2 separate regions of the Homo sapiens genome follow, and region 1 is linked to region 2. Evidence: fine-mapped expression QTL. A gene starts in region 2. The other region holds a variant in brackets. All regions are shown on one strand. Distances are between the middles of the regions. Region 1 holds the start of LRRC74B (leucine rich repeat containing 74B). Region 2 holds the start of P2RX6 (purinergic receptor P2X 6).

The links. PIP is the estimated chance that this variant, and not a neighbour inherited with it, causes the effect.
Region 1: its variant is fine-mapped to the expression of P2RX6 in fibroblasts (GTEx, PIP 0.90).

What each region holds. Positions count from the first base shown.
Region 1 is chr22:21,043,532-21,046,427 of GRCh38, forward strand. LRRC74B (leucine rich repeat containing 74B) reads left to right here and starts at 2,415. Exons shown (of 10, transcript NM_001291006.2): 1 at 2,415-2,594. The coding sequence starts at 2,456. It also overlaps the pseudogene P2RX6P. The variant G/A (reference allele first, on the strand shown) is at 1,554.
Region 2 is chr22:21,013,671-21,016,566 of GRCh38, forward strand. It overlaps P2RX6 (purinergic receptor P2X 6), which reads left to right and starts at 1,495. Exons shown (of 12, transcript NM_005446.5): 1 at 1,495-1,668; 2 at 2,272-2,422. The coding sequence starts at 1,505. It also overlaps the pseudogene TUBA3FP. RefSeq lists an enhancer at 375-524.

The DNA of each region.
Region 1 (2,896 bases), 30 kb after region 2:
ACTAGTGGATGTCACAGCCATCATGACTAGTGGATGTCACAGAGGCCATGCCAGGAGAGGGAAATAATTGATCTTTGGACATATGAGTGTGCACCTGGAAGACAGCTGTGCTCTGGGCAGGTGTTCACTGGGGCTACATACACCCTGGGAATCAGAGGAGCAGAGGTGGGTGGAAGTTAAGGCTGTGGATAAGCTGGGTGGAGGGAAGAGGAAAATGCAGCTGAGAAGGGTGGAGGAGGAGCACCTGACCGAGGTGCCCCAGGTCAGGGAGCAGGGCTACAGGAAGTTCCACGCCCTGGCCCCACCACACCCCTCCCACACCACTCTCAAGCTCAAGCCATTAGTCTCAAACACTCCCTTCTTTTCTGTTGGCAGCCTTCGGAAATGCAGTTTCTCTGGCCTGGTTTCTCAACCCATCCCTTTTTCTACCAGAAACCTCCTACACATCCCTGAAAGTCCTGTTCAGGTGCCACTCCTCTGTGAAGCCCTTCCTGAGAACCTGCAGCCACCTTTGGCATCACATGCTTCTCTCTCGCACACACTGGCTGCATGGCGGGTGTTCAAGCTGTCAGTGGGGAAAGGACTTGCGCCCCCGTCAGCAACATCAGGGCCCCCACCTGAGGTGGCTTCACGAAGTCGGCCACATCCCACAGCCGGTTTCCAAGCTCCTTGATCTGAGTCACGGAAACCCCTTTGAGTTTGGTTGTGATGGAAATCTGGGGTTCCAGGTCCCGCTCCTGGTAGCCTTTTTTGGCGAGGAGCGCCCACCTGGGAAGGAGAAGATGGGCAGTGTGGTGTCCCCCCAGCGTGTAGTGACGGGGCAGAGCTGGGCCCTACATGCTCAGTTCTCTCCCCACACCCTACAGGCTCCCAGTCCAGCATCCTCTCTGGCCCCACTTCCCACTGTAGACTCCCTGAACGAGACAGAAGCTCCAGCCATGCATCAGAGAGCCAGTGCCCTCAGACAATCACCTTCACTAGCCAGCACCCACCCCCAGCCTCAGTAGACCCAGCTCCGAGCTTATAGACTCCCCTGACCGGAGATATAGCTGGTGGTCTCTCTGGGGGCCTAGTGCTCCAGCTCTCACAGATGTTAAGGACAATGTCTTGTGCCCCCTGGGTGGGGCCGTGGGGAGGGACTGGGAAGCAGGCAGGTGGACACACAGGACAAACACACAGCTTGTTCTTGCTCTCCTGTCTTGTATTGCCTACCTCCCACCCCGTCCCATTATGGCCCCTTCCCCTCCAGCCCCTAAACAGCCCAACCCTCAACTTCAACCCAGCAGGACCAAGCCCCACCCCCGACCTCTTCCCTTGCCCCTCCAGCCTGGCCAAAAGCTCTTCTCTCTTACCCTACCACATAGACGACGATCCCAAACTGCAGCAGCCTCTGCAGGGCGCCCCCCCACCAGTTCCTGGTCATCACATACTTCTCCGTTTTATAATCCAGAAGCCCCTAGTCTGCTGTGGCCCCTGGGGAGCCCATGCTGCCAGCTCCTGCTAGCTGCGGGCACATGAGTCAGCATGGCAGCTGCAGCCGCAGCTGAACAGGA[G/A]GCAAAGCAGGGCCCGAGCCAGGCCACGCCAGCCGCTGTTAAAGGGACACTTCCACTAAAGCAGGATCCAGCCTCCAACACCCAGCCTTCAGCCCCTAACCCCAGCTGCCCTGCACCTCCCACCCTCCCTACATTCTCTTTGCTGGGCCCTGGTGGCACACAGAAAACAGCAGCTCTGTCCCTGCCCTCTGGCCTCACTTCCTCCGGTGGGAGTGGACGTGGTGAGAGGATGGGGAAGGACAGCTGTTATCAGTGCTGTGAGAAGACGGCCTGAGGGCAGCAACAGCCCCGGGGGGGCTCTGAGTAAAGCTTCAGGAATAAGTGACTTCTGAGCTGACGCTTGCAGATTCTGAAGTTCAACAAGCAGACAAAGATGGGGATGGAGGTTCCCAGGGGAGCGAACAGCGTATGCAAAGGCCAGCGCATGCAAGAGAACTGAGAGCCACAGAGTGAGAGGGTGACCTGGCTCTGCGAAGTTCCCCAGGCCCTCCTGAAAAGCCATTCCCAAGTGCAGTGAAGAAAACACAAGCTCTGGAGTCAGGCATGTTTCCCATTCCATGAAAGGGGGGCGATGCTGGAACCGCCTAGGGGAGGCAGGGGGATAAACGCAGCAAGGCGCCCAATCCGGTGCATGGTCTGTGGCGCATGCAGTGTATCAGCCCGGGCGAGGAGCCTCAGCACAAGCCGGCCACAGTTTCTACGGCAACCGACAACACCGGGTTGCCGGGGCGACCGCCGCGGGAGAGCGCGTCGCTATTGGCTGTGGGGGGTGCCTGTTGCTGGACGGCACATTCGGTTGGTCAGCGCAGCCGCAGACTCCGCCCACAATCCCGGGCCGCGCTCTGGGCGCGGGGTCAAGCTGTCTCCGACTCAGTGTCTGAGACTGCGAGAGGGTCGTAACCATGAGGGGTTCCTGTGAGAGGTCTGGGGAGGATGAAGAGCAGAAAGAAGAGGCTATGGTGGCCTGTGGGCGTCTTTCAGGGGTCCCCGAGGCCGAGCAGGGTCCCGAGGCCAATTGGGACTCCGACCTGGAGACGGAAGGTGCTCGGGGGAGGGGGCAGGCCCGACTCCTCCCCTTTGGGGGTCTTCTCCCGCAGGGGTTGGGGGAGGCGGGCTGGGGCTAAGGCCAGCAGGGAACGTACCCGCCTGCGGGGCGCCTCCAGCCCCCTGCCTTCCCTTCATTGCTCCTGGAAGCATCAGGATAAAATGCAAAATCCCGCCAGACAGTGCACCAAGGGCTGTCCCACCCTGAAATGAAATCAGAGCCGGGTTTTCCCAATCCACAGGAAAAACTAAGCTAATGGATGTATGGAATTTAGAACTATCTCGGTTTTTTCTCCCGT
Region 2 (2,896 bases):
ACACTATGTCTTTTAACCTGATTGCAGACCACAAATGTTTTGTGAATATTTTCCCCAGGGAAAAAACCGGAAGTAGTTCTAAATTCTATACATCCATTATATTAGTTTTACCTGTGGATTGGGAAAACCCAGCTCTGATTGCATTTCAGGGCGGGACAGCCTTTGGTGCACTGTCTGGCGGGATTTTCCATTTTAACCTCCTTCTAGAAGCGCCTTCTCATGGTAAAGTTCCTGATGCCGCCAGGAGCGCCGAGGAGAGGGCAGGGGGCTGGAGACGCCCCGCAGAGGGCTACGTGCCCTGCTGGACAGAGGTCTCCTGCCTCCTCGGCGGCGCCAGCCCACCTCCCACAACCCCTGCGGGAGAAGCCCCCAAGGGGAGGAGACGGGCCTGGCCCCTGCCCCGAGCACCTTCCGTCTCTAGGTCGGAGTCTGAATCGGCCTTGGGACCCTGCTTGGCTTCGGGGACCCCTGCAAGACGTCCACAGGCCGCCGTCGCCTCTTCCTCCTGCTTTTTATCCTCCCCAGACCTCTGGCAGGAACCGCTCATCGTTACGCCCCTTTCGCAGCCTCAGACCCTGAGGCGGAGACCGCTTGGCGCCTCACTTAGAGCGCGACCCGGGGATGTGGGCGGAGTCTGCGGCTGCGCTGACCAATCGAGTGTGGCGTCCATCGACTGGCGTCTGCCACGGCAATTAGCGACGCGCTCCCCCGCGGCGGTCGCCCCGGCAACCCAGTGCTGTAGGTTGCCGTAGAAACCGTGGCTCTCCTGCGCTGAGGCTCCTCGCCTGAGAGGATAAACTGCACGCGCCACGGGCTATGCACTGGGCTGGGCGCCTTGTGGGCATCCTCCCTGCCTTCCTAGGGGGTTCCAGCATCGCCCCCCTTTCGTGGACTGGGAAACACGCCTGACTCCAGGACTTGTGTTGTCCTCACTGCACTGGGGAAGGTGGCGGGGGCAGCTTTTCAGGAGGGCCTGGGGAACTTCGCAGAGCCAGGTCACCCTCTCACTCTGTGCCTCTTAGTTATCTTGCATGCTCTGGTCTTTGCATACGCTGCTCCCTGCACCAGGAACCTCCATCCCCATCTTTGTCTGCTTGTCGAACTTCAGAAATCTGCAAGGGTCAGCTTAGAGGTCACTTCTTCCGGAAGCTTTCCTCAACACCCTCCCCGCCCTGCTGCTGCTGCCCTCAGGCCCTCCTCTCACAGCACTGATAACAGCTGTCCGTCTCCACCCTCCCACCACCTCCACTCCCACCCCAGGAAGTGAGGCCAGAGGGCAGGGACAGAGCTGCTGCTGTTCTCTGTGTGCCAGGGCCCAGCAAAGGGAATGTAGGGAGGGTGGGAGGTGCAGGGCAGCTGGGATTAGGGGTTGAGGGCTGGGTGTTGGAGGCTGGATCTGGATCCTGCTTTAGTGGAAGTGTCCCTTTAACAGCAACTGGCCTGGCCTGGCTCGGGCCCTGCTTTGCCTCCTGTTCAGCTGCGGCTGCAGCTGCCATGCTGACTCATGTGCCCGCAGCTAGCAGGAGCTGGCAGCATGGGCTCCCCAGGGGCTACGACAGGCTGGGGGCTTCTGGATTATAAGACGGAGAAGTATGTGATGACCAGGAACTGGCGGGTGGGCGCCCTGCAGAGGCTGCTGCAGTTTGGGATCGTGGTCTATGTGGTAGGGTAAGAGAGAAGAGCTTTTGGCCAGGCTGGAGGGGCAAGGGAAGAGGTGGGGGGTGGGGCTTGGTCCTGCTGGGTTGAAGTTGAGGGTTGGGCTGTTTAGGGGCTGGAGTGGAAGGGGGCAGATTGGGACGGGGTTGGGGAGAGCTAGGCGATACAAGACAGGAGAGCAAGAACAAGCTGTGTGTTTGTCCTGTGTGTCCACTTGCCTCCTTCCCAGGCCCCCACCCAGGCCCCACCCAGGGGGCACATGACATAGTCCTTAACATCTGTGAGAGCTGGAGCACTAGGCCCCCAGAGAGACCACCAGCTGTATCTCGGGTCAGGAGAGTCTGTAAGGGGGAAGCTGGATCTAGTCAGGCTGGGGGTGGGTGCTGGCTAGTGAAGGTGATTGTCTGAGGGCATTGGCTCTCTGATGCATGGCTGGAGCTTCTGTCTCATTCAGGGGGTCTGGAGTGGGAAGTGGGGCCAGAGAGGAGGTGGGGCCTTCGATGTTGGGCCGGGAGCCTGTAGGGTGTGGGGGGAGAACTGAGCATGTAGGGCTCAGCTCCGCCCCTGTCACTACACGCTGGGGACACACCACACTGCCCGACTTCTCCTCCCCAGGTGGGCTCTCCTCGCCAAAAAAGGCTACCAGGAGCGGGACCTGGAACCCCAGTTTTCCATCATCACCAAACTCAAAGGGGTTTCCGTCACTCAGATCAAGGAGCTTGGAAACCGGCTGTGGGATGTGGCCGACTTCGTGAAGCCACCTCAGGTGGGGGCCCTGATGTTGCTGACGGGGGCGCAAGTCCTTTCCCCACTGACAGCCTGAACACCCGCCATGCAGCCAGTGTGTGCGAGAGAGAAGCATGTGATGCCAGAGACGGCTGCGGGTTCTCAGGAAGGGCTTCACAGAGGAGTGGCACCTGGACAGGACTTTCAGGGATGTGTAGGAGGTTTTGGGGTGGAAAAAGGGGCCACTCAAGAAGCCAGGCCAGGGTTGGACGTGCTGGCTCACGCCTGTAATCCCAGCACTTTGGGAGGCCAAGGCAGGTGGATCACGAGATTGAGAGTATCCTGGCTAACACGGTGAAACCCCATCTCTATTAAAAATACAAAAAATTAGCCGGGCATGGTGGTGGGCGCCTGTAGTCGCAGCTACTCGGGAGGCTGGGGCAGGAGAATGGCATGAACCCGGGAGGTGGAGCTTGCAGTGAGCCGAGATTGCACCACTGCACTCCAGCCTGGG